Linked DNA regions of Homo sapiens: all the other regions are linked to region 2. The links come from fine-mapping of genetic effects on gene expression. A gene starts in region 2. Each other region holds a variant in brackets. All regions are shown on one strand. Distances are between the middles of the regions.

Region 1 (8,104 bases), 43 kb before region 2:
TTTAGAAGATAAACACTTCCTTACCTCCTCTTGGAAACAGGGAGGCTATTTATAGCAGCTGCAGAGCAGGTTGAACGGGCCACTGACTCGCTTCTTCCCAGGTCACAGGTGGCCAGGAGATGCCTGGTCCACCTCTGGGTCCAGGCCTCAGTCACTGGTTTCCCAGTGGAGGCTGGACGTGACCCCGGCTGGAACCCAAAGGGGCAGCCAGGAAGGGCAGGAGAGTGGAGCTGCTTTCCCCCAGGCCACTGAGACCCCACAGCTTGTGGCTGGGTCGCAGTGTAGACAGGAGACGGTTGTCTGCAGCACCACAGGCCTGGGGTGAGGAGTCCTCCCATGCAGGGCCTGTGCGTGGCCCCGCCCACACCCAGCACATGCAGGAAACCAAATTCAGCCAGGCACCCAGGGCTGCTGGATTCTCAAACTCTTATCTTGGCAAACACTGTGGTTCCAAAAGCTGCTCAAAAGATTCTGCTGCAAAATTAAAATGTGGGAATTTCCCCAGATTTTCTAGGGAAAAGTAAATAATCAGGGATTCTTGATGGGGCAAGAGAGTGGGGACCTTAAGTTGGAATCAGGTCAGACAACTGTGATTACTCCCAGCTAGAGGAGGAACAGGAGGCCCCAAACCACCAGCAGCGCATGGGCACCAGCTGGTCTGTGGGGCTTGATCTGGTGAAGGCCTGGCCCAGCTTTGCTCTGGGCACCCAGACACCCAGCAGTGTTTGTTATATGAATGCATCAACTCCCCTGCCTTCCTCTCCCTCCTTCCCTCCTTCAGCAGGACATGAACAGATTAGGAATTGTACTCCAAATGATACTTGCTTTTTGTAAGGCGTCTCAGGCTTTTTAGAACGTTGTACTGGTCCTCCCAAGAACTCCTGGAGTTGTCAGGTTCTAGACTTCTAATTGGGAACTGAAAAATAGACAGGCCAAGGGACTTCCCTAATGGGACAGCACAGAAGAGGGCAGAGGTGGAGCCCAGAACTGGGGGCAAGAAGGGAGGGACAGGCCTGGGCCAGCCCATCAGCCCAGATGTGATCTGGGAGTCTGCAGAGATGGGCACGGCTGAGGGGGTGGGGCAGGGTCAAGGTCCCAGGAAATACCAGCAGGTAGGTCTGGGAAGGGAGAGAATCCCAGTGCCAGCATTTTTCGTTACTGTCTCGATCATTAGTTAACATACTTATCAGTGAACACTTTAGTAACCAGCGGAGGAAGATACACTGAGAATCAGAACAAAGACCAAAAGTTATAACCAAAGTTATAAAGCCCTCGTTCCTCCTCCTGCCAGCAGGTCCCCTGGGAATGCCAGGCCCAGGGGCCACCACAGGAAGGTAGAGAGCTGTCTGCATCGTGGAGTGGGCTTTCCAGCTCCAGGTGGGTCACCTGCCTCTAGGATTCTTTCTCTCCCACAGAAAAACAGAACTTACTGCTGGTCTTCTCCTTGGAGATAGGGAAGGGCATTACAGAGACTTGCCTCCAGAGACGGAGACAAGGTATGATGTGTGTATTATTAGACAGTCTGGGGGTGAAGGGGTGAAAAGATGACACAATCCAGAGGGGTTGGCCTCGGTGCCCATCACACCCAGCTCTAAGACCCAGTAAGAAATGAAGAAGTGAATTGTTCTTCACCCACCTTCCCCTCAAGGAGTTCATGCTTTGGAGCTGTAAACAATGAGTTATTTTTGCCTCCCCTTAGAAAATCTGAGCATCTCTTTTCTACACCACCCCAGGGAGTTCTGTGAGGGTCAGCTTCATACATTCAAAACCAGCTTATGTCCCATCCCCAGAAAGTGAACAACTTCTAGTCATGCCAATGTCGGGGCTCCGGATTGCACGTCTCCTCCCGGAGCCGGGACCCCTGGTAAAATCGCTACACGTTCATTCTCTCTCTCTCTCTCTCACACACACATTCTCTCTGTTCTCCCTCCCTCCCCTCCCCTTCTCTCACACTCAACCCAACCCCAGCAAGAAGCATTGCACAGACAGAGGACGCTGTTTCCCAGTTGAAAGGTCACCAAGGGACAGGGTGATCTGCCAGGCAGTTCCTGAGCTTGCTCTTGGGACGGCCTTTTGGGGGCAAAGCACTTTGGAGCCAGAAGCAACCCCTGCCTGGGCTGAGGCCCTGTGGGCCTCGCTCCACGACTGTCACACCTTGCCCACCACTGGAGAGATGGCCGCTGCCCGTGGACTCCCTGGCAGCCATGTGGTTGCCCAGCCCAGGGGGCCTTCAGAAAGGTGACCTTGCACCGGCCAAGGCCCGTGGGCAGGCTAGGCTATGGCCTGTAGATCTTAATGACGTCCTTGATGGGCCGCCGGCAGATGGGGCAGCAGGCCCGGGCCTGTCGCTTGAGCCGCAGGCCGCAGCTGTGGCACAGGCACATGTGTCCACACGTGTAGATGACCGTGTCCACCTCGCCATCGAAGCACACCGTGCACTCGCCATTCTTGATGCCTGCCGGCTCCGGTGGGGAGAACACGGGGGACACCGGGGGGCTCAGCGGGGAGCTGGGGGCCGTCACTGCCGAAAGGGAGAAGAGGACATATGTTAACAATGTCTCTCTCAGGTGGGCTCTGTTGGGGCAACCCCGAGAATGCAGGGCTTCTTGCTGGGACCGGTGGGAGAATACTTTTGGGAGATACTAATTTGAGTTTACCTTGCAGGTTTTGCACCTTTCTCTACTCTTCTACTCCCAAACACCAAGATAAAATGCCACCATCGTCACCCTTTGGAATGCCCTATCTAGACACTTCTCCTCCCTCCAGCTGAGCATACAGCTGAGGGAAGGAGAGGATGCGGGGGAAAGGCGGCCACCCTGCTCAGTCCCTGGAAGGCCACTGGCACAGCCGGAGGAGCCAGGCCAGCCGCCAGCCCCTGCCCCTGCCAGGGTTTGCATTTCCTTACCCAGGGATGACTCAGATGCCGAGGAGGACTGGTTGACACTGAAGGTCATATCTGAATCACTATCGTCCTGGGAGCCGCTGAGGGACCCTGATGGAGTCGTGGTCGCAGGGCTGGACTGCAGGGTACCTGAGGCCCAAAGAGATTCCATCAGGGGCAGTGGAAGGTTGGACCTGCCCTGCTAGTCCATGGTTCTTCACTGCTTTGCACCTTAGCTTTCCCGTCTAACGAGAGGACCAGAGGTATCTCCCAGGGTTCTGCTGAGGAGTGAAGAGTGCATCCCAGTGTGGTGCCTCTGTTCTTTGTCTACCAGGCCTCTATTCTCTTCTCTTTCAGAAACAGCCCTGGGATGTTCTTTTGGGATACTAATGTGCCCTCCCTCATAGGATAAGGGCCAGGCCAACAGGAACTTCCACTCTCTGGTCTCAATAGTGGTGGTTCAGGAAAGGGCACATAACCCCCGTAAGGCCCGAGACCCAATTCTGCAACTTTTACTGGAACTACTAGGAAAGAAGGAACTCATTCCATTCATTGGGAAGGAAGCCTGGAGCTGGAAGAGCCAACCCGTGGCAAAGGCCTGCCTGAGAGTGATGCCAACACAGAGGCAAGCAGAGCTTTGAGTTGGAAAGAGAGGTAGGATCCTGCTGATATCCTTCCAGTACCTAGATCCAGCTATTCCTGAACTCACCCAATATACTCCCAGACATTTCCTTTTTTGCTTAGGGCACTTTGAGTGGGGTTTTGCCCCTTGCGAGAAGATCCCTGACTACTAGTGCTCAACATGGATGAGTTTTCTTCCCCAAGCTTGCTGTTGGTTCAGACAATAACAGCTTGTTTCTTAGGATGAAAAGATGCCCCTTCCCTTGCCCTACCTGAGGATGAATGGACAGATAATGGGCACTTCGTCTCGGGCTGAAATGATGACTATGTCTGATGGTTCCTCAAAAACACAAAACAACACAACTTCCCCCTCCCCAAAAAACACTCTGACCAAATAACCACACTGCCACCCGGCTCCTCCTCTGCCCTCATGAAGACAGCAACAGCTGCTGTTGTTACTGTTACCACTGATTAAACCAGTGTCAGGCCCCGCTCAAGGCATTATATGCACATGATTTCATCCTCATGACAACCCCATGAAGCAGGTATCACTCTCTTTCTACAGAAGGAAACAGGCTCAGGAGAATCTGTGATTTGTCCAGCATCTTCAAAGCTGACCAGCGATGTGACCCTGGGATAGTCATTTAATCTCTCTGTGCTCATTATCTTATCTGTAGGTGGGGATAATGATACTGATTTCAATAGAGTCAAAGGGAGGATAAAATTCAATGAGGGAACATATGAGCTGTTGACTGCTTCTTATTGCTTGGACTCTACTTTTTGAGCCATGAAGTTGGAGCCAGGCTCTCTGGGAAGCCTTCTCTGAACATCTCCTTCACTCCACCAAGCTGGGAGAGGAGCCCCCGGCTGTAGCAAATGTCACACCGTGCAACTCTCCTTTAGGGTGTCTGTGAGCTCCTAACCGGCATGGAGTGTGTCCTGTCCTCTGCTGGCCCTATCCTGGTGCCCAGGGCCCGGCCCACAGCTGGTGGCTGCTCCTGCCTATTTGTGGCATGAATGAAGGCAAAAATTATCTCAAAATAGGATGGTTCAGGCCTCCATTCCACTTTCTGTGGACGATACTATTCTTATTTCCTCTTTCATGTGCAGTCGAATTTATTTTTTCCCTACACTTACTGTGCATTACATGTTAAAAACACCCTAATGTAACAAATCGTAACAACGGAACTAAAAATCGCACCGACCATTTACCGAGGGGATATAGCCTGCCAAGCTCGGAGATAAGCCGGTTACC[T/G]ATCTAGGTCGGTGGTTTACAAAATGTGGTCCAGAGAGCCGCAACGTCAGCATCTCCGGGCACTTGTCGGAAATGCACGTTCTCGGGGCGCACCGTGCACCCACTGAATCCGGAACTCTGGGGTGGAGTCCGGCAATTTTGGACGGGGTGGATCGTGCCCGGGCGCTTAAAGTTGGGAACCGCGGGCTGGCCTCGGGCGGTGCAGCGCCTAGCGAGAGGGGCGGGGCCGGGGAAGAGCGCAGCGGGGTGAGACGGCACGGGACGGGGGAGGGGCGGGGCCTCGCGCACGCGGGGCCGGGGACTCACCGAGGAGACGCAGCTGGCCCGCGACGCCGCCGCGCACGGCGAAGAAGGCCCAGAGCGCCTGCGTGGTGTCGACGCACAGCAGGCGGCCGCGCGGACGCCCGTTGATGCCCAGGAGCACGTCGCCGCCGGGCCGCAGCGTGAAGCTGAGCGCGTCGCCGCCGCTCGGCACGGGCCCGGCGCGCGCCACCACCCAGTACTCTTTGCGGTCGAGCAGCGCGTCTGGGTCGGCGGGCAGCTCGTTGGGCCGTAGCACGCCCGGGTCGCACGACGTGATGCCGAAGGCCAGCGCGCCGGGCGCCGCCAGCCCCGGACGGCCCACCTCCACGAAGAGGCTCTCGCCGGGCCGCAGCGGGCGCTCGGAGAAGACCAGCGTGCGGCCGCCGTCGGGCCGCGGTGCGCAGGCCACTTTGCGGTCGGCCGACAGGCTCACGTCGGGCCCGCGTGTTGCGTGGAAGCGCAGGTCGGCCTCCAGTAGCGCCGGCGACGACGCGGGCCGCGGGCGCTCACGGGGCCCGCACGGAATGGCGGCGGCCGCGGCGTCGGCTGGCGGTGGGCCCGGGGCGCGGCCCAGCGCCAGGTGGCCCAGCTTGGCCACCACCTGGTTGTTCTCGAGCTCGTTGTTGTCGAAGTTGGCCGCGTCGTGGCTGCTGGGCGGCAGGCAGGCGCTGAAGCGGGCCTGGCTGAGGCGCGCGGGCGTCAGCGTGTCAGCGAAGGCGCTCTCTGTGCGGACAAAGGGAGGGACATGGAGGGGGAGAGGCCGCGCGTCAGGCTGGTCGCGAGCCCCTCCTCGCCCGCTGCCTCCTGCAGGCCTCCACGACCGACCCGGGCCTCGAGCAGCCCCCACCCCACCCCGGCTTCGAACTCTCCTTTTGTCCATCTGTGTTATTTAGTGAGTCACAGGAGCACAGAATTGCATTAAGCACCATCCTCGGTTTCCTTGACATGCTCTTACCTTTGGGAGCGGCAGATAAGGCCCTTTTTCCCCTGCCTCCTCCTTTCTCTTCTTCCATCCCTCCTTTTCTCTCCACCCTTTCCCCTTCTCTCCCTCTTTCCGAGGTTTCCATACTTTGATCATTAAAAGGGCATCTAAAAATCGTTTATTGTCCGTCTCCCCAACTAGAACATAAGCTCCAATAAAAAGAGCAAACCTGTACTCGTGGCCTTACGCAACGGGCACTTCTAAGCTTTCGCGCGCTACCTCATTTAATTTACACAACCACTCTGTGAGGCATGTACGGTTACTGCCTGCTATTGAGCTCACAGGGAAACTGAGGCACAGAGGGGTTGGGGAACATGACCAAGGGCACATGGCTACTAAGTGGCAAAGCCCCGACTTGAACCCATGAGTTGAACCCAGGCTGTCTGGCTCTAGAGTCTGGGCTCTTCAACACATGCTGCCTCTGAAAGAAGGGAGGACCTGGGTCTGTCCTCACTGCTGTGTTCACAGCACAGAGCACAGTGCCTGGCCCTGGATAGGTGTTTAAGCATTGACAGAAAAAAGTCTACGGGAGATTGAGTCAGTTGATAAAACTAAATGAAGGGAAAAGAAATTTTTTTTTTTTGAGATAGAGTTCCGCTCTTGTCACCCAGGCTGGAGTGCAATGGCGCGATCTCGGCTCACTGCAACCTCTGCCTCCTGGGTTCAAGTGATTCTCCTGCCTCAGCCTCCCGAGTAGCTGGGATTACAGGTGCCTGCCACCACTCCCGGCTTAATTTTTGTATTTTTAGTAGAGACGGAGCTTTGCCATGTTGGCCAGGCTGGTCCTGAACTCCTGACCTCAAGTGATCTGCCCACCTTGGCCTCCCAAAGTGCTGGGATTATAGGCGTGAGTCAGCACGCCCGGCCGAAGGGAAAGTTCTTTAAAAGTTACAGTTATGAAAATATTTTAAAGTACTTTTTAGTGATTTGAAAAAATGTTCTTCATATGACATAGGTAAAAAAGCAAAAATAGTGTTTATCATTTGGGTAATACAGGTATTCGTACTTTAGTAGATTACCTGTTTATTTTCTGCCTCCCTAGCTGGAATATGAGTCTCTTGAGGGCAGGGTCTGTGTCAGTCTGGTCACCACCATGTTCTCAGGGCTTGGCAAATAGCCTTCACTATTAATAGTTTATTGGATGAATGAAGGAACGACTAAGGTCTAGAAGAGACTGCTATGCTAAATAACAACAACATCAGGAAAGAGTCATTAAAATATTGTGAAGGTGTTTTTTAGTGATACAAACATTTTTGTTTACCATAATAGGAAAATAAGTGTTTTAGACTTTTTAAACAGACCACTTTGAGCCAAGATTTTGTTAAATGTTACCATTCTATAGTGTCTTGAAAAATATTTCCTCTTTAGTTTTCCAAATATGAAATGAAATCATAAGAATGCACATGCTTTTTCGAATTATGCCCCAGGCCCCGGTGGGTCCAAATGCACCCCCTCAGACACCTTTCACTTAAACTGGATTTATAGCACTTGGGAAACCAGTAAATCTGGCAGTAGGACCTGAATTCTGCCCTGGCCACAATGGGCTAAAGAAGCTTGCCCTTGTATTGAGGTGGTTTGATCTCTCTTGATGTGCCTGAGGTGGCCCTCTTCAAGGTCTCAGCAAAAGGGGTCAGCTACTTGTTTGGACTCTGGGCATCTGAGTGTGTATGCTTTGCCTTAGCGAGGGTGCTTCCCATAGCTCGAGGGAAGAAGTGGGGTTTCAGTTTGTTTCTTTAAAAAAGTACATATGTGTGCATTTGTCTACATCTGTCTGTATCATTTTATTTATGTGCATAGGAAATCAAGTGATGGAGAGACAAAATATTAATAGTAATTATCTCTTGGGGTGAGATCATGAAGGACTTTTCTTTAGATTTTTCTGTATTATCTAGTTTTCCTTCAATAAACTTGTATGCTACTGATATGGTTTGGATTTGTGTCCACCCAAATCTCATGTCAAATTGTAATCCCTAGTGTTGGAGGTGATTGGATCATAGGAGTGGACTTCCCCTTTGCTCTTCTCATGATAGCGAGTTCTCACGAGATCTGGTTGTTGAGAAGT
Region 2 (8,104 bases):
GCATGTTGGCCCCTTCCACTAGGGCCAGCTCCTGAGGGTAGCAAGCGATTCTGATTCTACAGAATCACTGATAGAGGTGGTTCTTAATGACCTGGTGGAAGGGAGGAAGATGGGACAAGACAAGCAAGGTAAAGCCCAAGTGAACGTGAAGTTGTGCCTGGGGAAGGGGGAGGAGAGGTAGAAAGAGAAGAGGCAATATCACTCCATGGGCCATCCATGCAGTATTGCCATGGCTGGAAGGAGGGTGACAAGGGTCGCTGTCCTCCCAAGAGCTGAGAAAGTCCAGATCCAGGGAAAACAGTGGCTGCCAGGCCCTGGGAGCAACACCACCCATGGCTCAGATGGGAAGTCAGGGAGCAGCAGATGTGTCCCGGCTAGGCTCAGCATCCACATGGCCCCTTATCTGGGCCAAAAAGAGAAAAGGGCTCTGCAAGGGAGGATGTCAGACTGTCTGGGGTAAGCGAGTGCTTCTTTGTCTGGATGCAGCACTTACAGACTGTCCACGTAGGTTAGGGGAGGCTGCTTCTCCCCTTACTCTGTGTCCTTGACCTCTCTGAGCCTCCACTTGCTGCCCTGTAAAATGGGGATAAATATAGTCCCTCTAAAGGGTTGTTATGAGGATTTCAAATAGATACTGTGGGTAAAGCCCTTGACCAAGGGCTTGATATAGAGCGGGATCAACACACTTTCCTCACTCCAAAGCTCCAGGATGCCCGGTTATTGAGCTAATACGAAAAAGCTGTTGGTTCGGTCAAGCGTGGGCCAACTTAATGATGAAACCCAACCTGTTGTTTGAATTTAGTGTATTCTCCAACCAGAGCTGCAGGTGAGCCCAAGAGGCGAGAAGGAAGGGATTGGAATGTGCTGTTAGGAGAAGGGGATGAGTCCCTCCCTCCACCTCCCCTCACTCTCATCCTGGAACGCTGCCCTCCCCTATCCCCACCTGCTTACACTTTTTTTCTCCCTTCAAATACCCAGATGAAGGCTAACGGACTCGAGAGAGAAGGACTACATGGTATGAGGAGTCAGACAGGTCTCAGTCTTTTAAGCCCAGCTTTGCCACTGCCTAACTGTATGCAAAGTGTCTTAATCTCTTTAAAATGGTGGAGAATGGCACCTTACTTTGCAGGGTTGAGTTGCAACTGGAAAGAGAGTGTAGAGCACACAGTAGGAGCTTAGTAGATGTGAGGTCCTGTGCTGCACGTTCTGTTTAAAGGGCATTTCTCTGAATATGCTGATGCACTTTGCAAGAGCTGCCAAGAGGCTTCCGCAATCGATCATAAACAACCTTCCCTTTCTTTGGCATTTCCTTATTGTATAGTGTAGCATGCCACGTGCATGGTGGGGAACCCAATAAATGTTATCTAAATCACGGGCTGGGAGGCCACAGCATGTCAGAATAAGAATGCAGGACTTTGGAGCTAAGTTAACCTAAATTGCAATCCCAGTTCTGCCAACTAGGTGAACTGTGTGAGCTGGGACAAGCCACTTTACCTCTCTGAGCCTCGGCTTCTCAACTGTAATATGGAGATGATAATGCCTACATTGCAGGGATGTTAGAAGAATTAAATTCATCCATTCATCCCATCCAACACGTACTTACTGAACATTTACTCTGTACTAGCCACTGCTCCAGGTGCTAAACGTATAGCAGTGAATAAAACAGACAAAATCTCCCTGGGGGAGACAGACAAGAAACTGCTAACTACACATACAGCGTGTCGCATAGTGACACGTGCTAAGGAGAAACTTAAAGCTGGGTCAAAGGAGTGAGTGGGGTTGGGGCAACAGCAGGCCCCTCGTTCAAGCAGAGACCCCAAGGAAGCCTGGTGGGAGCCATGGGGAGGAGGGCAGAAGAATGTGCCGGGGAGAGGGATCAGGAAGTGCAGAAGCCTTGAGGAGAAGCATGCTTGGCGTGTAAATGAAGCCACATATGCAGGAAGCCTGGCATGGAATCCAGGTGCTCAGCAAATGCCAGCTCTCTATTTCAAGTCCCGCAGAAAGAACCCCACGCATGTGTCCTTTTCCTGAGAACGAAAGCACAAGGATTCTACAGGGCAAGACTGTGCCAAGTGTTCCTTCAGCCTAAGATTCAGGCAACATTCGAGCTCCACCACCAGTTTTTGAGCCCTTGCCAGGCACCAGTCTCTGGGATGGGCAACCAGGGATACAAGATGATCAAGACAAGGGCTCTGTCCTCAGGGAACCGCAAAGAGTCACAGAGACAGGCAGTGACAATGCAGTCATTGCAACGATGAGCAGGAAAGGACTTCAGGCATCCAGATAGCAGAGCAAAGGATGAGACTGTGGGTGGTCAGGGAAAGCTTCCTGGAGGAGGTAACGACAACTGGATTTTGAAAGGCAGACTAGACAAGAAAGGACAATCCATGCATGGGGACCATCACATGCCAAGCACAGAGGTACAAAAAACAGCACAGGGTGTGCAAGAAACTCATACTGGTAGGTCGGAAAACAATTAACGGCCCTTCATATTCTTGGCATCTGCCACCCGATGTGACTCAGGAATTCCGGTTCTGACCCCTTCCTCAAACTCAGTGCAAGCTTCAATCCCCAGAGAAGAGTCTGAATTCCCCATACTTAGACACTGCAGTGGGTAACCAACCTTAACTGCCGGCTCCCAGACTAGGGTGGCCCAGTCCACAGAGAGAGAGTTGAGAGGGATGGAGAATACATAAATCTCTAGCTATATTTAGCCTGCCTGGCGTGTGTCTGTCCCTTTACGCACCCCAGGGCTGACCCACAGGTGGCAGAATGGCTTTTTACTAGAATAGTATAAACATTTTTAAATTAAGAAACCAAGGAAAGGGGCCTGTGCCGAGGTGCCTCATCCCAGTGTCTATGTGGCGAGAATATCTGCTGCCCTATTTGCCAACATCCCCAGATATCTCCTGACCCGCGGGTGGGTTCTCCCCCAACCTGGCAATAGCCCTGTCCACAGGAGGTAGAGGCCACCCTCCAGTAAGCAGACCTGGGTTCTAATCCCACCTCTGCCACTGACTAGCTGGTGACTCTGCTGATGATTACAGCTCTCTGGGAATTTGAACGTTTGAGTGCAGTTGCTCAGAGGCTTGTAAAGTAGGAGTTGGCTCCTCTTCCATAAGCTGACCCTGGGAATCCTGGGCTCAGCACTGTCCACTTCAACCCGCTCCAGGGGAAATTATTCTTTAAGAGCATGTAATGCCTAGAAGGGAGAGCTATATGGGAGTGTTATAGCAGAGATGGGGTGATATGTCCCTCTTCCAGAACCTCACACTAAATTAACCTCACAGCTGACTTGCTTCCCCATTGAGCCGAGCCTTTGTGCTTTAGACACACACACACTCCTCTCACCTTTTGCCCAAAGGATGCTACAAAGGCCCAGCCTTAAGACAAAATACTTCTAAATACTTGGGCGTGTGAGGGGAGGGAGGGCAGAGAGACACAGGTCCCACTCCAGATTCTCCCACTACTAGCTGTGTGACCTTGGGTGAGTCATTTCACCTCTTCTGACACTCAATTTTTTTATTTGTAAAACTGGGATACACATCTTTATCGCGAAGCTTCTTTGCATACCGAGCTGGGGTATGCAAAGTGCTGGGCACTGAACCTCCACGGGCACGCGCGGGCGCGGGACCGCTGATCTGTTCCCACAATTACCATGTATTTTCCAGTAAGGCCTCCTCCTACCCCGTTAACCTGCTCCGGATCCCCTCACTCCGGTCCCAGAAATTCTGGGGCGATTTTAACTAGGGGGCGATGCGATCTGCAGCAGCGACTCCGAGGGGGCGAAGGAGTCCCCAGTGGAGCGGACACCAGAGGGGGGCGCAACCGGGGTGCGCGTGGGAACGTGGCCAAAGCACGGCAGCATGTGCCGCGGGGGCGCTGGGAGGCTGGAAACTGGGGTGCCCCTGAGAGCACCCCTCACTCTCGGCAGCTGCAGTCTTGGCACCACGGGTGGCTTCTGACCGTCGGAAGCCCTGGCGAGCCCGGCTCCAGTCACCCCCACCCAGGTCGCCTTGAGTTTGCTCATCAGCGCCCTCGGGCTGGAACAAAGGCGAGGGGGCGCGCGGCATCGCCCCAGCGGCCCTTTTTGCGCATCTGGCCAAAGCCGGGAGAATGAGGACTGGGGTCCCCAAGGTAACCAGGACGCGGTACCCGCCCTCCCGGGGCGCAAAGCCCAGCCGCGGGGCGCGCGCCGAGCTGAGGTCCGGGAGGTACCGGAGACTCCAGCCCGCTGCGAGCCGAGGGCTCCAAGGGCCGTGGGGTAGCTCTCCAGAGTCACCCAGCGGGTCCCCCGGAGGAGAGAAGCCCGGCGCCCGCCTCCCGGGCAGGGCTCCCCGGCGTACCTGGCAGGGTCCGGTGCACCGTGTTGCCCATCGCTGCGTCGGGCGCGGCGTTGGCGGCGGCGCGCTCTGGGCGCGCGGAGGCTAATTACGCGGCGGGCCAGGGACCAGGACCGGGGTCGACGCTCCGGGGCATCGCAGCTGCACGGGCGAGCCGGCGGGCGGCAGCTGGGGCGGGAGCCGGGAGGGAGGCGGCGGCGGCGCCTGCGGGAGGAGGAGGCGGAGCCACCGGCCCGGGCCCGCCGGCTCCGCCCCCGCCTCCCACCGCCTCCAACAGTGCAGGGGCGGGGCCGCGGCCGCCGCATCTTTTGAAAGTTTGCACCAGGCGGCGGGAGAAGCACAGCCAAGCCTCCCGCCCTCGCCGCTCCCGCGCCCGGGCCGGGAAGGCGCGCAGGGCAGCTGGGTGCCCTCGGGTGCCAGGATCGGCAGTCTGCTGGCCTGTCACCCATTTGTTCTAACACTTTGAGAAGGCCCACTGTGTGCCAGGCCCTCTTCCAGGCGCGGGGCCCCAGCCGGCCGAGTCCTAGCCCCGGCAGACCTCTTTGGAGAGTGCTTCGGCCCCGGGGGAACTTACACAGAGGCAGACGGGCCCCTGGGACCATGTAAAGGGCTTGGAGACAGTACACCCAGGGTTCCCGGGTTTGGGTGGAGTCTTTTCTATCCCCTAGGCCAGGTACCGAGGAATAGAAGAAACCCAGTGTCCAAAGATTGGGAAGAGGGAACCCACATTCATTAATTTATTCGCTCATTCACTAAAATATTTATTGAGCACAGTCTATGCACCAGGCACTGTGCTGGGCCGGGTAGATACAGACAAGGTCCCCACTGCCCTGGAGATGGCATGCTGAAGATAGAAATAACAAGCAATTACGATCACATTATATAATAATCAAAGCCAGGAAGAAAATAAAACAGATCCCAGTAGAGTGAGGAGATGACATTGTTTGGGGGCATAGGGAGAATCTGGGGTGGGGGCACATAAGCTCCATCTGATGGACTAGAAGGCGTCGGCCATGAGAAGAGATAGGTAGAGTGTTCCTGGCAGAGGCAGTAACAGGCATTCCTCATTCAGGCACCTGGACCACACTCAGTGGGAAGTGCAGCTGTGCCCTTCTCGAGCTCCATTTCACAGGCTGGAACGCTGAGGCCCAGGAAGTGCAATGACTTCCCCAAGAAGACCCGATTCCAAATGAGCTGTTTTTTTCAATTCTATTTTTCATGCTCTTGTATCCCTTGAGACTTTATGAAATATGTATTATTACTTCCATTTCACAGATAGGGAAATTGAGGCTCTGAGAGTGGAAGAGAGGTGCCCAAGATCTTCCAATGGTACAGGGCAAAGCTAGCCTGAAGCTATGCGAATAAAAGCGGGGTATTCAGGAGACAGCCTTCTGCATCTCCGGTGCCTTCTGCTTACAGTACATGACCCATCCCAGAGGGTTCTAGGGTCTTTAAGGCCAGCTCCAAGCTTCCACTTCCGGGAAACCTTGATTCCCCACTCCCCCCTGACGTCATATGTCTGAACATAAGATTGCCTTGCATTTGAGTTACTAATTTCTCATATTACAGGTGCTCGCCCAGTGACTTAATTTTTAACCCCAAAGTTCTGTTTGAGAAAGGTCCGTTAGCGTGATCCTTTTTTTTTTTCTTTTTTTTTTTGAGACAGAGTCTCACTCTGTCACCCAGGCTGGAGTGGAATGGCACAATCTTGGCTCACTGCAACCTCTGCCTACCAAGTTCAAGCAATTCTCCTGCCTCAGCCTCTTGAGTAGCTGGGATTACAGGCACCCACTACCACGCCCCGCTAATTTTTGTATTTTTAGTAGAGATGGGATTTCATCATGTTGGCCAGGCTGGTCTCAAACTTCTGACCTCAAGCGGTTCCCCCACCTCAGCCTCCCAAAGTGCTGGGATTACAGGCCTAAGCCACCTCACCTGGCTGATCCTCCTTTAATCTATGTGACATTGGGTTGCATATGGAGGTCAGCAATATTATAAAGGGAATTGAGGGAATTTTCCTCAGATAAGGCAATGCAAACAAATATGACTTTGTGACGGCAAGGGTGAGAGGTTGTGAACAGGCCTTTTAAAGGCCACTTTCAGAGTACCTCAGTAAGTGGCCATGTTGTGCAGATCACAAATACTCACCTGCAGCAAATGAATCCCTACTGTCAAAATGTGATGCGGATTGGACCTGCGGTGGAGACACTGTGCCCAGCAGTTGCCTGACATGTGGATTCGAAAGGGCTGTGTGTTAGCCTCTGGATCTCTGAGAGTAGGACCTGCTCTAGTAAAAAGCTGCCCCCAACACACACGATGGTGACACTAGTGTCAAAGCCACACAGAAAAGAATTAGAATCAAATTGTTTCCTGAAATTTGAAACTGCCAAAAGCAATCTTTCCATATTAGTATTCTCTATGAGAATAATTGCAAATATGTTTATATAACTAAAGTAATAAATGAAATATTTCAAGTAGATGTCTATTTCATCTTCACCCCATTAAGTTTATATTATTCAATAAGAAAGTGCATCTTCTCATAGGGAGAATGGGGATTGCCTGTAATCTTTACTTGGATTACCTTATATTTGGGCACATACAGCAGTTGCTCACCCATCTGAGATCCCTCTGCACTTTGTGCTGTCCCCTCAATTACACCCTCAAGACAGGTGTTGTAGCTGTTACCTTTGCGTCCTCTCCACTGCCAGACAGGATGCTCCTGCAGGCAGGAAGAAGGCTGTAATCATCTAGGAAACCCCAGTGCCCAGAACAGGGCTGGCAGACACAGGTGCTCAATACACATTTGCATAAATTGACTGCAGAGATGCATTGCCCTGAGCTGAGAGAAAAACAGAAAAGAAGGAGAGAGGGAAGAAAGAAGGAATGGAGAAAGGTAATAAGAAGGGAGAGGAGAGAAAGAGCTGTGAGAGAATGAGTTTTTGCCATTAGTAGCCCTAGACCCTGGTGTGATGAATAGTAATATGTGCAGGGAAAAATAAGCAAATGAGCAAAATAGGGATGCATTAACAGAAATATAGTCTTTAGGACAAAGGAGGGGCTTGCTGCTCCAGTGCATGTTGGTTAGACCATTCCAGAAGTCGCTTTGGCTCTGGGCACCACACTAGAGAAGGAGGACAAAGCTAGTCCACGAAGGTGGAAGGGTGGCTTTGGGAGAGAGGGAGATCCCTGTCCCAGGAGGTGTGCAAATAGAAACCATATATTTCCTGCCAGGCAGTTGAGGAGGGGCTTCCTGAGTCACATGTCTTCTAAAGTATACCTTCCAGTACAATCATCCACTGAGCCCCTACAACCCACATGAAGCCATGGGGGTGATTTATGGTTTGAGGTTTATGAGTCTGATTGGTCCTGCCTCTACTGACCCTGAGAGGACTGCAGAGGTGCTCCCCTGTCTTTGCAGCTTGTGTACCAAGCTGATCTCCTGGGATGTGGGCCTCCCATTTTTGTTGCCTCTCCCAATCTCACCTCTTCCCACTAGCTCCCAAGCAGGGCTGGCCGGGACACTGTGGAAATGCTGTCTGCATGTATTAGGGGCCTGGGATCCAGGCACTATGTCTAACAGCAACAAGGGAAGGGAAGGGACTGTTGGACTCAGCACCTGCCGCACAGGAGACTTTATAACCACAGGGATGGAATGTGAATCTCTTCCTTCTCCAAATATTATAGTCATACCACATCCAAGGAGATAGGTTCTAGCATCCCCATTTTCCAAACGAGGACACCAAGCCTCAGACAGGTAAAGT
Region 3 (8,098 bases), 160 kb after region 2:
CTGGGTGTGCTGCATGCGTGGACCTGTCCCAGGCCAGCAGCGTGGCTGGCTGCCAAGAGGTGAACACCAGGCAGCACCCAGGACCCGGCTGGACGCACCTGCCCCACCACCCAAGAGGCTGAAAGGAGGGATTTCACTTGCTAGAGTGTGGCAAAGTGGGATTGCATCACGCTTTAAAACCATCCACTGGTTTCCCATCACACTAAGAGTAAAATCCAAATTCCCTCCCTGGCCTCAAAGGCCCCACATCGTATTTCCTCCACTATCCCCAGATTCTAGTACTACTCATGGCACAACAGTGGACACAGAGGAATGTCTGTTCAGCTCATGCCCACATCTTCATCTTCATGTGGAATCTGAGGCCACTCAGACAGAGAAGAAATCAGCCTCATCAGCAGGAAGATACCCATCAGTTTTCCCATCTTGCTGTTATGTCTAAACTGATCTCTGGCAGATTATATAAGAAACTTAGAGGGCAGAGACTGTGACTTTTACATGCACAGGGTCTGAGTGCAGTCCTCCAGCTAGGTATTTAACAAGCACTTGCTGGTCGTGCAAACCAATGATGATGATGATGATGATGATGATGATCAGTCTGACAATCATGGAACAGCTGGAGATTGTGAAAATACAGAAAGCTAAGGTGGGGCCCTAACCTTGAACAGTTTATAATCGAAACAGACAAGCCACACAGAATGCTGATGATAATAGCACACACAGACAAAGGGCACAGGCTCCGGAGTCAGACAGGCTTTCATTTCAAACTCCAGCTCCACTGCTTGCTGCTGTGTGACCTGGAAAAATCCTCAACCTCTCTGTGCCTCTTTGTTCTCACCTACAGATGAAGATAGTCACTGTTACCTCAAAGGGCTATAAAAGCGTGGCTCAGCACACAGTAAGTCCTCCACAAATGATCATCAGGATTACAATTATAATCCTGATTACAACAGTTATGTTGTAAAAGAAAAACCTTACCATGTGGAGCAGCCATCCCCAACCTTTTTGGCACAAGGGACTGGTTTTGTGGAAGACAAAATACACGGTCCAAAACCATGGACAGGGCGGGGAGAGCAGGGGATGGTTTTGGGATGATTCAAGCACATTACATGTATTGTGCACTTTATTTCTATTATTATTACATTGTAATGTATAATGAAATAATTACACAACTCACCATCGTGTAGAGTAGTGGGAGCCCTGAGCTTGTTTTCCTGCAACTAGACGGTCCTATCTAGGGGTGATGGGAGACAGTGACAGATCATCAGGCATTAGATTCTTATAAGGAGCCGCAACCCAGATCCCTCACATGCGCAGCTCACAATAGGTTTTGTGCTCCTATTCAAATCTAATGTTGCCACTGCTCTGACAGGAGGCAGAGTTCAAGGGTAATGTGAGCGACGGGGAGCAACTGTAAATACAGATGAAGTTTCCCTCACTCACTTACCCACTGCTCACCTCCTGCTATGCGGCCTGGTTTCTAACAGGCCACAGACCCACACCAGTCCATGGCCCCAGGGTTGGGGCCCCCTGTTTTAGAGATACATATTATAATAGTTACAAGTAAAATTGATGAAACAAGAGTGGCCAGAAGTTGAAGACATAGCTGCAAGATCAGTACATTGGACTTCAAATTATATTATTCTCTATGTTTTTATTTGTTTTTGAAATTTTTCATCATAAAAAGTATATTAGGCCAGGTGTGGAGGCTTATGCCTGTAATCTCAGCACTTTGGGAGGCTGAGGTGGGAGGACTGCTTGAGTTCAGGAGTTTGAGACCAGCCTGAGCAATATAGCAAGACCTCGTCTCTACTAAAAAAATAAAAATAAAAATAAAATTAGCCAGGCATGGTGGTGCGCATCTGCAGTCCCAGCTACTTGGGAGGCTGGGACCGGAGGATTGCTTGAGCCTGGGAGGCAGAGACTGCAGTGAGCTTGATCACACCACAGCCCTCCAGCCTGAGTGACAGAGTGAGACTCTGTCTCACCAAAAAAATAAAGAGTATATTAGCCAGGTGCAGTGGTACACACCTGTAGTCCCAGCTACTTGGGAGGCTGAGGCAGGAGAATCACTTGAAGCCAGGAGTGCGAGGCTACAGTGTATGAGGATCATGCCTGTGATTAGCCGCTGTACTCCAGCCTGGGCAACATAGCCAGATCTCATCTTTAAAAAAAAAAAAAAAAAGCATATTTAAAAAGTTCTTCAAAGAACATGTAAGAAAGATACTCTAATTTCCCTGTTTTTCAGATGAGAATATGAGTCTCAGAGAGGTTAAGTTATTTGTCCAAAGTCACACAGCTCATGTGGCAACGGAGCCCGAATTCATACCCAGGTCAACAGGACTCTAGAACCCAGACTCTAACCATAACACCAGTCATCAGGAAAAAAATTACAAGACAACCAAAAATCGGTGCACATGTTCACTGAGAGATATATTTAGTCAAACAACTAAAAAAAGAACTGCTTTTAAAGGCCCAAACTGAAATGTAAATTGAAGGGAAACTTACTTCTTTCAATGATTCACTTGGGAGGAAAAAAGAAACTCTGCTCCTCTTTACTCATTTTCTTCAGTGCCTCTTTTTCTCTAAGGATCAGAGTTAGAGAGGGTGGTAATAAACAGTAATAGCAATACATGTGTCCTATCTTGCCACAAGGCCGGCCACTCTCCCTGCGTCTTCCAGAGGCTTCCCGCACAGGCCTGGGCACAGCATGGACGCTCCACAAAAGGCTGCCAATCTAAGACTGGTGGTGGTGGGAGGGGTGCACCCCACCATGGTTCCCTGGAGCCCCACAGTCTGGGTTCAAATCCAGTTTGCCCCTTGAGCTGTGTGACCTTGAGCAAGTCACTCTCCCGCTGGGACTCTTGCAGGGCCCTGAGCACTGTGCTGGACAAGTAGGCCTCACCGAGGAAGGGTTCCCCCCACCACCACTGCTCCTCCCTCTCGCAGAAGCAAGCCTTGCTGAGTAACACGAAGCATCAATCCAGCACCCTGTGTGAAACCATCGTAAGTTGTGAATGAGTGGAAATTGACTTACTAAGGCTGGGGCTGAATCATTCCCTGCATCTTCCGCATCTGCGGGGGCTCCCGGC[G/A]CAGAAGGCAGATGAATGGGCAGGGCGTGTGTCCCTGACAGCAGCAGCTCCAGCGTCTTCAGGTGCCACACTGCCTCCAGACGGCTTCCCTTTCACGGGGAGTGCATGGCGGGAGCTCACCTGTGTGCCTGGGGCATGTTCTTTGGAAGGCGGGGTCCCCAGCAGGGTGTTGGGAATGGAGGCAGTGGTCCCAGCCATGGGCAGCTCAGAAAGATCAGCTGTCTGTCCCCTCATTTCACACGAGGAAGCAACTGATTGAGAAACAAATTAGAATCTGAAGGGTTTGCCATTCATCCAGGACTCCCTCTGTCTGTCTGTCTGTCTGTGTGCCTGAGGATCGTTTGAAGGGCGGTGACAAAGCCCTCTGGTGGCGAGTCAGCCCGCTTCTCAGGGACGTCCACTGAGCACACGAGGAATAAGAAGGCAGTGAGTGCCCCCATCTGGCAGGAGTCAAGAATGTAGGACTCCTGATAAAAGATCCTAGAGGAATGACAATAGCCCCAAGGTGACATCATAGCAGGTTTAATGAGCACCTACTGTGTGCCAGGCTCATTTCATATGCTATCTCATTTAATCCTCACAATCACCCCCACGAAGCCCCATTTTACAGAAAAGAAAACTGAGGCTCCAAGGGGTTTACTGCTCTGGCCAAGGTCACTCAGTTATTCCATAGCACAACCACAATCAAACTCCGGGTCCAGGCTTTATTTGCCAGAGGGAGAAGGAGAGACGAAAAGAATGAAAATAACATTTATTGAGCATCATCTGTGTCCCACTTCTATGGACTGAATGGTGACCCCCCAAAATTCATGTTGAATCCCTAACACCCAATGTGATGGTACTTGGAGATGGGCCTTTGGAAGGTAATGAGGGTTAGACGACATCATGAGGGCAAGGAATTAACACCCTTGTGATGGAATTAACACCCTTATAAGAAAAGATACCAGAGAGCTCCCTCTCATTCTCCATCTTGTGAGGACACAGTAAGAAGGTGGCTGTCTGCACGTCAGGAAGAGAGTCCTCACCAGGATCTGAATTGGCCAGCACCTCCAACTTGAATTTCTAGCCTCCAGAACTTTGAGAAATAAATGTCTGTTGTTCCAGTCATGCAGTCTATGGTATTTTGTTACGGCAGCCTGAGCTGATAAGACAGCAGATAGCATGGCCCTCATGATAAGAGCAGCCCACACTTACTGAGTGCTTACTGTGTGCCACGCATGCAGTGTCTGAGGGCATTACCCAAACCACTGGTTTTCATTAATCCTCACAATAACCCTGCAAAGTAAGTACAATACATATCCTGATTTAGAAATGAGACACAGGGAAGATAAGTAACCCACTCCTGATAAAAGATCCTAGAGGAATGACAATAGCCCCAAGGTGACATCATAGCAGGTTTAATGAGCACCTACTGTGTGCCAGGCTCATTTCATATGCTATCTCATTTAATCCTCACAATCACCCCCACGAAGCCCCATTTTACAGAAAAGAAAACTGAGGCTCCAAGGGGTTTACTGCTCTGGCCAAGGTCACTCAGTTATTCCATAGCACAACACAGAAGCCAGAGCCTGTGTATGTAAGGGGCAGATCCGGCAGACAGAAATTACTGGCAATGCTAAGTGTGATCATGTGGTGTGCCAGTTCAGGTCCTCCAGGAAGTGGATGCCAAGATAGGATTCAATGTGCAAGAGAAAGAGATGTATTGGTGGAAACACCTGTGTAGGACAGAGAGGGAGCAGAAGGCAGCAGGGAGAGTTTGGGTGCTGTGCACATTTAACACCTAGGAAAGGAGAGCAAGAGGGAAGGACTGGGGAGGAAGAGCGCCAGACAGCAGCAGAATTCCGGGAATGTCTTGGCCAGGCTGATAGGGAGTTCCCAAGTCAAGGCGCTGATAGAGGAATCCCACATAGGGCAGGAATGGCCTGGTTCTAGTATTCCCACTGTGTTCAGTTGTGGCTGTGTCAAGTGTGACAGCAGAGTAGACCACTGGTGGGTTAAAAGTTACGGCCACTGAACTGTCCATCAAATGTGCTTCCCACAGTGGGTCCTCTTGAAGGGAGAGCTGAACAGAGCACCTTGGTGGCTGTCATGCTTGGTGTAGGTGGCATCCACCAGACCGCCCGGCCACTCCATTGTACCCTATACCTATTGTGATTGATCTCATGCATGGGACAATTCTTTGAGACCATGTGAATATTCTATACTCCAACAACCTATCTGTCTATTGGTTTTAGCATTTACTGATATGATCTTTGAACCAATTATGGGTTGCAAGATGATGATTTTCTGATCCTTTCATGGCTTTCGAATGCATTAGTTCTGTTGTTCTGTAAGACAGAACTCCCTTCTGCCTTTTTTAGTGTCACCATAAACTCATGGAGTTTTTCATTTACTATGTGATAAGCCATTCCCATCACTCTTCTTTCAATATTTCAGTTGTTCCCGAGTAGACCATCGGAGCCTCGTCCAACAGATCCTGTGTCCTTTTATTAATAGTTTGTCCACATCAGTCTTTGAGCCCTTCCTTTTGCTCCAGACTCACCTTGTATGTTCCCTGTCCATTACTTTGAGGAGTTGGTGAGGAATGGTCTTTAGAAACCAAGATCTGGGGAAAGGTGTCCTCACTGCTGTTTTAGTTAAATTTTAATTATTAGCTTACAATGATTGTTCCAAATCAAATTCAACACCCCAGGTTTCTCCCACGCTTTCCTTATGCCATACTTTTTTTTTTTTTTTTTTTTGAGACAGAGTTTTGCTCAGTCGCCCACACTGGAGTGCAGTGGCATGATCTCGGCTCACTGCAAGCTCCGCCTCCTGGGTTCACGCCATTCTCCTGCCTCAGCCTCCCAAGTAGCTGGGATTACAGGTGCCCGCCACTACGCCCGGCTAATTTTTTTGTATTTTTAGTAGAGACGGGGTTTCACCGTGTTAGCCAGGATGGTCTCGATCTCCTAACCTCATGATCCTCCCATCTGGGCCTCCCAAAGTGCTGGGATTACAGGCGTGAGCCACCATGCCCGGCCCCCTATGCCATACTTGAACCTCTCTTCTTCCACAGTGAGAACTCTGGCTGACAGTAACATCCATATATTAACTCCACTTCACAGTGCAAACGAATAACTACACCAATGCCACTACTGACAACTGCTCTACCAAGTTCATGGTTTAGTGGCGGTTATTTCATCCTTAAAATATAGCCCACTAAGAGTGTGCACGCACAGTCCTGGAATTACTTCCACTGTCAGTGTGGTTGCTATCAATTTGACAGGCAAGTTCGTTTGTTTCTATTGCTTTTCCCATCATTTGGTTTTTCTCTTTTTTGAGACAGAGTCTTGCTCTGTCACCCAGGCTGGAGTGCAGTGGTGCCATCTTGGCTCACTGCAACCTCCCGGGTTCAAGTGATTCTCCTGTCTCAGCCTCCTGAGTAGCTGGGATTACAGGCGCGTGCCACCACGCCTGGCTGATTTTTTGTATTTTTAGTAGAGACGAGGTTTCACCACGTTGGCCAGGCTGGTCATGAACTCCTGACCTCGTGATCCACCCACCTCAGCCTCTCAACGTGCTGGGATTACAGGCGTGAGCCTGTGGCCTCCCATCATTTTTATTTAATTTTGTATTCAGTAAATCATTTATATGGCTCAAAACTCAAAAATTGTAAAAAGATAGTGACTCTTTCATCTCTACCCTTTTCTCCCCATTTATTACTTTCATAGGTAATCATTTTCATTATTTCTGGACTTACTCTTCCCACATTCCATTTTTATAAATTGTAATGGTTTTACAAAAAAAAAATGGAACTTTTTTGCACTTAAAAATATATTTTGGAAACAACTCCATTCGGCTCATAGAAATCCTCTCAAATTTATTTTTTCATTAAATTTGAATTACTCAAGTAAACACAACTCTCATCTTTGTTTTTTAAAAGTTGAACATTGCATGCAAGGCTGAAGGCCTCTCTCACTGCCCTCCAACCTCCTAACCCTCCTGGAGCCCTCCTAGAGCTTGGTCTTCCTCCTCCAGACCTTTCCCCATGCAGGTATAAACTTCTATTTATTCTTGGAGGTTTCTTTGCATAGATGGTATCACATTATAAAATTATTCTGCGCCAGGCACGGTGGCTCATACCCGTAATCCCAGCACTTTGAGAGGCCGAGGCAGGTGGATCACCTGAGATCAGGAGTTCCAGACCAGCCTGGCCAACATGACGAAACCCCATCTTTACTAAAAATACAAAAATTAGCCAGGCATGGTAGCAGATGTCTGTAATCCCAGCTACTCTGGAGGCTGAGGCAGGAGAATCTCTTGAACCTGGGAGGCAGAGGTTGCAGTGAGCTCTCACTGCACTCCAGCCTGGGTGACAGAGCAAGACTTCATCTCAAAAAAAAAAAAAAAATATATATATATATATATATATATATATAGCCTTACTGTATTTTTTATCTTAATTAGAGTCTTAGGGGGGCACCCCTTTTAATTTTGCATCTGAGACAAATATCTTACTCAGCTCACCTTAATCCTGGCCCTGCCTTGTGCAATTATTTAACTCTTTTATGCCTCAGTTTCCCCATCTGTGAAATGGGAGGAATAATAGCACCTCCCTGACAATGTAAATAAGCTAAGATATGTACAGAGCTTCAATCAGAGCTCAGCAGGTGCTAGTTAAGTATTATCTATTATTATGATGGCCATCATGCCAGGCACATAGCACACAGTTAATGTTGGACAACAAATGAAAGCTACAGTAGCTACTGCATGCCTAAGAGTTGGTTCAGATCTCTTATAATCATCACATCAAACAAGATTTTGCCATAATTCTCTAGGAAATACCATGTACTTGATGTTTCTTTTTGCCCCACAATGATTTGTTTCCAATGTAATCTCACAGTTGTTTTATGAAGGATAAAAAGTTCCTCACTCCAATCATTCAGCATTCTTGTAAAACCCCATTATCGCTAGCCACAATTACATCTCGCCTCTTCCTGCAAGCTCTCTGCTACTCCGGGATCCCT
Region 4 (8,104 bases), 25 kb after region 2:
AGGACCTGCCTCAATTTTTGCTCCACTTCTTAGAAGCCAATGACCTAGGGCAGTTTGCTTCTCAGCGTCCACCTTCAGCTCGCACCTCTGTAAAACTGGTATCAAATACCACCTGGCTCTCAGGCCTGTTGCGGGGGGTGAGCATGTGTGGAATGTGGGGAAGTGGCCTGTAAGGGTTACAGGTGGGGACTATGTCAGGGTCCCTGGTAGGAATAATGAAAGGGACCAACATTTCTTACAAGTCTCTTAAAGAGCAGGGGTGCAGAGGAAGCAGAGGGATATTGGAGGAGACTGATATTCCTTGCGGCTGCACTGTGTGTCTGTTGTCCCAGTGCCTTCTGCCTTCCCAGCATCTGATCCAGGCAGCTCCTCCAAACTTAATGCTAACCCATCGCACACAACAACCTCTCCCCTCCACAGCACCTAGAGTGCCATCCACACAAATCCCATCATCTCACACTCCTGTTTAAAACACTTCAGTGACTCCCTATCATCCTGGGATCAAACCCCAGTTCCCACCTGTGACCCACTGATCTTGGCTTGGCCTGACCTCTGTTTGTCTTCTGACTTTATCTCTCCACTCTCAGTTCTGTCTCTCCAGGCACCTGGTCTTTCCCATCCCTCCTCCTTTGCCCAGGTAGCACCCTGAAGACCTCAAGGAAGCAGTGCCTTTACCTCCCTTCCCTTCCCTCCCCACTTGCTCCAACTTCATGGACCCCTCTCCACTTGTTCTTTTTGTTGTTTAATTTTTTATTTATTTATTTTTTTGAGATGTAGTCTTGCTCTGTCACCCAGGCTTGAGTGCAGTGGTGGAATCTCAGCTCACTGTAACCTCCACCTCTTGGGTTCAAGCAATTCTCCCGCCTGAGTCTCCCAAGCAGCTGGGATTACAGACACCCGCCACCACACCCGGCTAATTTTTGTATTTTTAGTAGAGACGGGGTTTCACCATGTTGGCCAGGCTGGTCTGGAACTCCTGACCTCATGATCTGCCTGCCTCGGCCTCCCAAAGTGCTGGGATTACAGGCATGAACCATGGTGTCCTGCCTCCATTTGTTCTTAGTGACAGTTTTCATGGGTCCCAGTGTGCATTTAATCATGAGCTTATTTGATTCTTGCCTTTTCCCCTAGTCTGTGAGCTCATGCAGGCAGCGGCCACAACCATCTACTAAGGTCTGCATGATGGTATCCCCCAGCAATTCCTCTCTGTTGGAATCCTAGTTCTCAATGTGATGGTATGAAGAGGTGGGACCTTTGGAAGGTGATTAGGCCATGAGGGATTTGCGCCCTTATAAAAGGGACCCCAGAGAGCGGCCTTACCCCTTCCACTGTGTGAGGACACAGCAAGAAGGTGCCATCTCTGAAACCAGAAAGCAGACCCTCCCCAGACACGGAATCTGCTGGCGCCTTGATCTTGGACCTCCCAGCCTCCAGAACTGGGAGCAATAAATATCTGTTGTTGTGAGCCACCCAGTCTATGGTGTTTTGTTATGGCAGCCCAAACCAACTAAGACAGCATCTGCCCGCTGCTATGTCCTTGGCTCCTAGCACAGAGCCAGCACACAGTAGGTGCTCAACAAATGAACAAAGGAACAGATGGACGAAGCCCAGAAGTCATTAGGTAAGAAGGACCCACTGTGTGCACAGAGCTGAGTTAAGCAGAGTGAGGTGAAGGTGAGGAAAGACCATCTTTGGCTCACCGGGCTAGCTGTTTCCAGAAAGGACTCATTTAGCCTCCTGCATCCCCCAGAGGAGGAGACCCCTACTCCATTTCTGAGTCAGGGCTCCTGGGCGCCATTCCTTGGCCCAGACACAACTTGCTGTGTGACCTGGGCAAGTCCCTTGGGCTCTCTGGGCCTCATCCCTCACCTGGGAAATTATCATACCTACTTTTGCGTTGTTGAGGATGAAGGGAGTGATTGGAGGCAGAGTGGCAGGCCCTAGGCCTGGCGCATAGCACGTGTTCAATAAGCGTTCCTTCCCTTCTTAGCAAATAAGATGTAATTCAGTCTGTCAGAACATATTTCTCATAGGATTTTTATCTCTAGTCACACTAGCTTGCAGGCTTTAAAAACCACATTAATACCATATTTTTAAAAGCTGTTCTTAGAGGAGAAAACGAAGGGAAGGGAGGAAGACATTTCTTTTTTTTTTTTAGGGCCTCAGTTTAATTTTTTTTGTTTACCTATATATTACAAAGGACATTACGAAGGATGTAGATGAACACCAGATGCTGAGAATGACAGAGCAAGATGTGGAGTGGGGGATACAGCGCTTCCCTGCTCTCTCTGGGCGTCCCACCATCCCAGCCTCGCCCATGTGTTCAGCAACCCAGAAGCTCCTCAGTTTAATTTTTAACAGAAAGAAAACGTACTGGGGACCCCACGGACCGCAGCTCCTCCCACACGAACCCTACACCCAAGGCAGGACTCTCCTTATGTCATGTGTGGCCCCCGCACAATCTGGGAAGACTGTGAGGTTGCGGGCGCGGAGCTGCTCAGAGAAGGCTTCCGGGCCGCAGTCGCCAGGCAGGGACGGGACAGAACGCCCCGGGTCCCGGTTGCTGGCCCAACCCCACCTTGAGGCCGAGGAGCTCGAGGGCCGAACTGCGCCAGAACTCGGGTCCCAAATCCCGAAGTCGCCTGCAGGGAGCCTGGGGTCCTGCCACAGCCGGTTCTGGCCGTTTCCAATCAGCCCCTGCCGGATCTCGGGTAGCTGTCCCCAAACACTCACCATTTCCAGGCTTCCAGGTGTCCTGGCTTGGGGGGAAGACATTTCTTCTTGAGTTCGATTTAGTGGGAAATGATGGTTCGAGTTAGAAAATTCTTTTTTTTTTTTTGAAATGGGGTTTTGCTCTTGTTGCCCAGGCTGGAGTGCAGCGGCGCGATCTCGGCTCGCTGCAACCTCTGCCTCCCAGGTTCAAGCAATTCTCCTGCCTCAGCTTCCTGAGTAGCTGGGATTATAGGGATCCACCACCACGCCTGGCTAATTTTTGTATTTTTAGTAGAGACGGGGTTTCACCATGTTGGCCAGGCTGGTCTCAAACTCCTGACCTCAGAGGTTCCTCCTGCCTCGGCCTCCCAAAGTGCTGGGATTATAAGCGTGAGCCACCACGCCTGGCTGAGTTAGGAAATTCTGTTTGGGTCCAATCGGTGGAACTGTGAGGAAGGCACAACGGGAATGACCAGGGGCCCAGGGCCAGCTTGTGCAGCTGGAGATACAGGGAGGCAGCCGAGCTCCCCTGGGCCTGCAGTCCCAACGTGAGGGGCACTCCTGGCATTAATTGTGTCCCTAGGAGGTCTCTGTGGAAAAATAGCCAGTGTGGGTCCCTAGGGGAATAAAATAGGGGTGGGGAGACACACGGGCGTGTGTGGGTGTGTGCAGGGGGGGATTTTGTGTTATACCTATGAAGCGTAAACCTCCTCTACCTGAAAGAAGCTGATAGAATCGGGGAAAGGGGCGCAGAAAGAAAACAGCGAAGCCCTGTTTTTCCAGGGCTTGGGTGAGACTGTGAGTCAGCGGGTGGATCAGGATAGGGAGAGCTCCAGCTGGAGCCGCTCAGAGC[A/C]GCCCTGGGTCTCTCAGGGAGACTCACGGGGGTGGCCTCAGGCTGGAATGCGCCCCTCTGCGTTCCTCCCACGCCCCCAGCGCAAATCAGCTCCGCAGGAAGCTCCACTGACCGCCTCCTCCTTCAGCGCTGATGTCATACAAAGGGAGCACCCACTGCGTGCCACACAGCGTGCTGTGACAGTCACTTGACCCCGGTATCTCACTGAATCCTCCTAACAGCCCAAGAGGTAGGGAATAGTATTCTCCTTTTATAGATGAAGACATTGAGGCTCAGGGAAGTTAAGTCACTTGTCCAAAGCAGCACAGAAAGTCAGTGGTGGGGCTTCTGGGGGCTGTAGAAACTTTCCATGGACAATTTGACAATAGGTAGTAAGAGCCCTTTTGACTCCAGTTGCTCCACTATTAGAAACTGAGGCAAGGAATATACCTGGGCATCAACATCTCAGCTCTAAGGCTATCCTGGGCAGCATTCTTCATGATAGTGAAAAACTGGAAACCACATTTCAACCACAGGGGATTTGTTAAATAAACCCCAGCGATGGAATACTACACAGCCACTAAAAATGGTGGACAGATGTGGCTTGCTAATGTGGAAAGCATTCACAAACGACAGAGACAAGGTTTGAAGTTCTGAGATTCCATTCCTGGCTCACTCACTCACTAGCTGTCAGGCCTCGGGCGAGAGGTTAACACTTTCTTCATTTTAAAATGGGGATAGATCAAGCATTTCAGGGCTTTTGTAAGAATTGTAAGTGGATGAGTTAATATGTGTAAGTGCTTAGATTAGCATCTGGTGTGTAGTAAACAACTATGAACGTTCACTATTAGATCTGGGTTTAAACAATGTCAGCTATTCTTTCTTCAGATGTTTCTTCTGTCCTTCACTCCTCTAATTACACATATATTAAGCTGCTTGAAGTTGTCTCATAGCTCACTGATGTGCCATTCATTTGTTAAAAAAATTATCTTTGTGTTTCGTTTTGGATAATTTCTTTTGCTTTTTTTTTTTTGAGACAGAGTCTTGCCCTGTTGCCCAGGCTGGAGTGCAGTGGCTCAATCTCAGCTCACTGCAACCTCCACCTTCCGGGTTCAAGCGATTCTCCTGCCTCAGCCTCCCGAGTAACGGATGCTACAGGCGCCCGCCACCATGCCTGGCTAATTTTTTGTATTTTTAGTAGAGATGGGCATTTCACCATGTTGGCCAGGCTGGTCTCGAACTCTTGACCTCAAGTGATCCACCTACCCCCCAAAGTGCTGGGATTACAGGTGTGAGCCACCACGCCCGGCCTCTTTTGGATCATTTCTATTGCTATGTCTTCAAGTTCACTAATATTTTCTTGTACCATTAATCCCATCCAATGTACTTTCTCACACAGGAAGTTTTCATTTCTAGAAGTTTGGGATTTTTTTGGTTACGAAATTTATTTTTTAATTTTTAATTGACAAATACAATTGTATGATTTATGACGTAAAACATGATGTTTTCATATATGTATACATTGTAGAATGGCTAAATCAAGCTAATTAATATATGAATTACCTCACATACTTATTTTTTGTGCTGAAAACACTTAAAATAGACTCAGCTATTTTCAAGCATACGATATATTGTTATTAACTATAGTCACATGACATACAGAAGCTCTCTTGAACTTATACTTCCTGTTGAACTGAAATTTTGTGTCCTTTGACCCACATCTCCCCACTTCCTCCATCCCTCAGCCTCTGCTAACCATTTTCTGCTTCTATGAGTTTGGCCTTTTTAGATTTCACATATAAGTGAGAGTATGTGGTATTTGTCCTCCTGTGCCTGGCATATTTCACTTATCATAATGTCTTCCAGGTCCATCTATGTTGTCGAAAATGATAGGATTTCCTTTTTTTTAAAATGATAAATAGTATTCCATTGTGTATGTACACCACATTTTCTTTATCCATTCATCGATGGATGGACACTTAGGTTGATTCCATAGCTTGAGTATTTTGAATCATGCTGCAATGAATATGGCAGTGCAGATATCTCTTAACATACTCACTTCATTCTGTCCTGTAGGTTATCTGTTCAGTCTGTGGATTGTTTTCTTTGGTGTGCAGAAGCTTTTTGGTTTGATGTAATCCCACGTCTATTTTTGTTTCTGTTGTCTATGCTTTTGAGATTATATTGAAAATATCACTGCCCAGACCAATGTTGTGGAGCTTTCCCCCTATGTTTTCTTCTATTAGTTTAATAGTTTTAGGTGTTACATTTAATTCATTTTGAGTTGATTTTTGTACATGGCGTGAGATGAGGGTCTAATTTTATTCTTCTGCATGTGGATATCCAGTTTTCCCAATATCATTTATTAAAGAAACGGTCTTTCTTCATTGTGTGTTCTTGGCATCTTTGTTGAAAACCAATTGTCTGTAAAAGTGGAGGTTTAGGGGCCAGGCATGGTGGCTCATGCCGGTAATCCCAGCACTTTGGGAAGCTGAGGCAGGGGGATCAATTGAGGTCAGGATTTGGAGACCAGCCTGGCCAGCATGGTGAAACCCCATCTCTACTAAAAATACAAAAATTAGCCAGGTGTGGTGCACACATTTGTAACCAGCTACTTGGGAGGCTGAGGCACAAGAATCACTTGAACCTGGGAGGCAGAGGTGGCAGTGAGCTGGGATTGCTCTACTGCACTCCAGTCTGGGTGACAGAGTGAGACTCCATCTCAAAAAAAAAAACACAAAAGTGTAGGTTTATTTATGGACTCTCTATTCTGTTCCATTGATCTATGTGTCTGTTTTTATGCCAGTACCATGCTGTTTTGATTAATATAGCTTTGTAGTATATTTTGAAGTAAAATAGTGTGATGCCTCCAGCTTTGTTCTTGCTCAAGATTGCTTTGGCTCTTTTGGGTCTTTTGTGGTCCCATATGAATTTTAGAACTGTTTTTCTATATTTGCGAAAAATGTAATTGGAATTTTGATAGAGATTGCATTGAATCTGTCAATCACATTGGGTAGTATGGACATTTTAACAATATTAATTCTTCCCATGTATGAACATGAGATATCTTTCCATTTATTCATGTAACTTTCAGTTTCTTTCATCAATGTTTTATAGTTTTCAGTGTACAGGGCTTTCACCTCCTTGGTTAGATTTACTACTAAGTATTTTATTTCTTTTTGTAGCTATTGTCAATGGGATTGTTTTCTTGATTTCTTTTTCAGATAGCTTATTGTTAGCATATGGAAACACTACTGATTTTTGTATGTTGATTTTGTATCCTGTAACTTTACTGAATTCATTTATTCTAATAGATTTTTTAGTGGAGTCTCTAGGATTTTCTTTGTGAAGCCTCTGTGCCCCCATCAAGATTTGTCATCTGCAACCAGAGATAGTTTTACTTCTTTCTTTTTGATTTGGATGCCTTTTCTTTCTTTCCCTTGCCTAATTACTCTAGCTAGAACTTCCAGTACTACGTTGAATAGAAGAAGTGAGAGTGGGCATCCTTGTCTTGTTCCAGATCTTAGAGGAAAAGCTTTCAACTTTTCACCATTGAGTATGGGGTCTAGAAGTTTATTTTATATCTTTCATGTCTCTAATTAACTTTTCAAACATACGAAACACAGTTACAATAAATGTTTTAACGTCATTGTGTGCTAATTCTAATATCTGTGTCAGTTCTGGGTCAGCTTTTATTGATTGATTTTTCTCCTCATTATAGTTATATTTTCCTGCCTCTTTGCATGTCTGGTCATTTTTTTCTTTTCTTCTTCTTTTTTTTTTTTTTTCTGTTAGATGCCAGACATTGTGAATCTTACCTTGTTGGGAACTGGATATTTTTGTATTCCTGTGTTCTGGGACAAAGTTAAGTTACTTAGAAACAGTTTAATCCTTTCAAGTCTTGCTTTTAAAATTTAATAGGCTGGATCTGAGCAGAGTTTAGTGCAGGGCCAACTATTCTCGGCAGCTGAGGTAAGACTTTCAGTAGTATCCTATCTAATGCTCTGTCAATCATGAGGCTTTCCAGTCTGGCTGGAGAGAACAGGTGCTGGTCCTGGCCCTGTGCGAGCACCAGGCGCTGTTCCATCTAAGTCACTTGGGTGGCTCTTTCCCAGGCTCAGATAGTTTCTTCACGTGCATGCACTGGTCAATGCTCAGCTGAATACTCAGGGGAGACCCTCCAACTTTCCCTGGAGGTCTCTCTCTCCATGAGCTGTCTTCTGTCCAAAACTCTGTTGTGTGAATTCTAGCAGCTTCAACCTCCTTGGACTCTCAGCTCCATCTCTTCAATCAGAGAGACTGTTGGGGTCTCCGTTGTACTCTATGCTATGGCCTAGAAACTCTCTCCAGCCAGTAAGTAAGCTTGGCCTCATTTGTTTCCTGATGTTCTAGGATTGCTCTTCTTTGTTGCCCTATGACCAGTGTCTTGAAAACCATTCTTTTGTATATTTTGTCTGGCTTTTGGTTGTTTCAGATGGGAGGGTAAGTGCAGACTGTGTTATTCCATTGTGGTCGGAAGCAGAAGTCCTGCATTAGCTGTTATTAATGAATGACACTAAC

Alleles and levels. Alleles are on the strand shown, and positions count from the first base shown. SD is a standard deviation of normalised expression in the study named. Not every link is listed here.
For the expression in lung of the gene that starts at base 4,521 in region 2, allele A in region 4 goes with a lower level than allele C (small effect, 0.23 SD a copy in GTEx).

The links. PIP is the estimated chance that this variant, and not a neighbour inherited with it, causes the effect.
Region 1: its variant is fine-mapped to the expression of NEURL1B in whole blood (TOPMed, PIP above 0.99).
Region 3: its variant is fine-mapped to the expression of NEURL1B in whole blood (TOPMed, PIP above 0.99).
Region 4: its variant is fine-mapped to the expression of NEURL1B in lung (TOPMed, PIP above 0.99).

Annotation. Positions count from the first base shown.
Region 1 is chr5:172,681,098-172,689,201 of GRCh38, reverse strand. NEURL1B (neuralized E3 ubiquitin protein ligase 1B) reads right to left here. Exons shown (of 5, transcript NM_001142651.3): 3 at 5,064-5,783; 4 at 2,906-3,031; 5 at 1-2,521. The coding sequence ends at 2,277. LOC107986479 (a long non-coding RNA gene) reads left to right here. Exons shown (of 3, transcript XR_001742997.1): 3 at 2,665-2,897. Among named protein-coding and RNA genes, the nearest start is that of MIR5003, 23 kb to the right of the region's middle. RefSeq lists enhancers at 5,024-5,524, 5,525-6,025. The variant T/G (reference allele first, on the strand shown) is at 4,758.
Region 2 is chr5:172,637,680-172,645,783 of GRCh38, reverse strand. NEURL1B (neuralized E3 ubiquitin protein ligase 1B) reads right to left here and starts at 4,521. Exons shown (of 5, transcript NM_001142651.3): 1 at 4,347-4,521. The coding sequence starts at 4,377. It overlaps LOC107986478 (a long non-coding RNA gene), which reads right to left. Exons shown (of 3, transcript XR_001742996.2): 3 at 7,306-8,104. RefSeq lists a silencer at 4,470-4,759.
Region 3 is chr5:172,474,541-172,482,638 of GRCh38, reverse strand. It overlaps LOC105377727 (a long non-coding RNA gene), which reads right to left and starts at 3,588. Exons shown (of 2, transcript XR_941225.3): 1 at 3,035-3,588. RefSeq lists enhancers at 2,315-2,934, 2,935-3,556. The variant G/A (reference allele first, on the strand shown) is at 3,090.
Region 4 is chr5:172,612,456-172,620,559 of GRCh38, reverse strand. It overlaps LOC105377729 (a long non-coding RNA gene), which reads left to right and starts at 3,718. Exons shown (of 3, transcript XR_941229.2): 1 at 3,718-3,794. LOC107986478 (a long non-coding RNA gene) reads right to left here and starts at 2,888. Exons shown (of 3, transcript XR_001742996.2): 1 at 2,734-2,888. RefSeq lists an enhancer at 3,023-3,939. The variant A/C (reference allele first, on the strand shown) is at 3,566.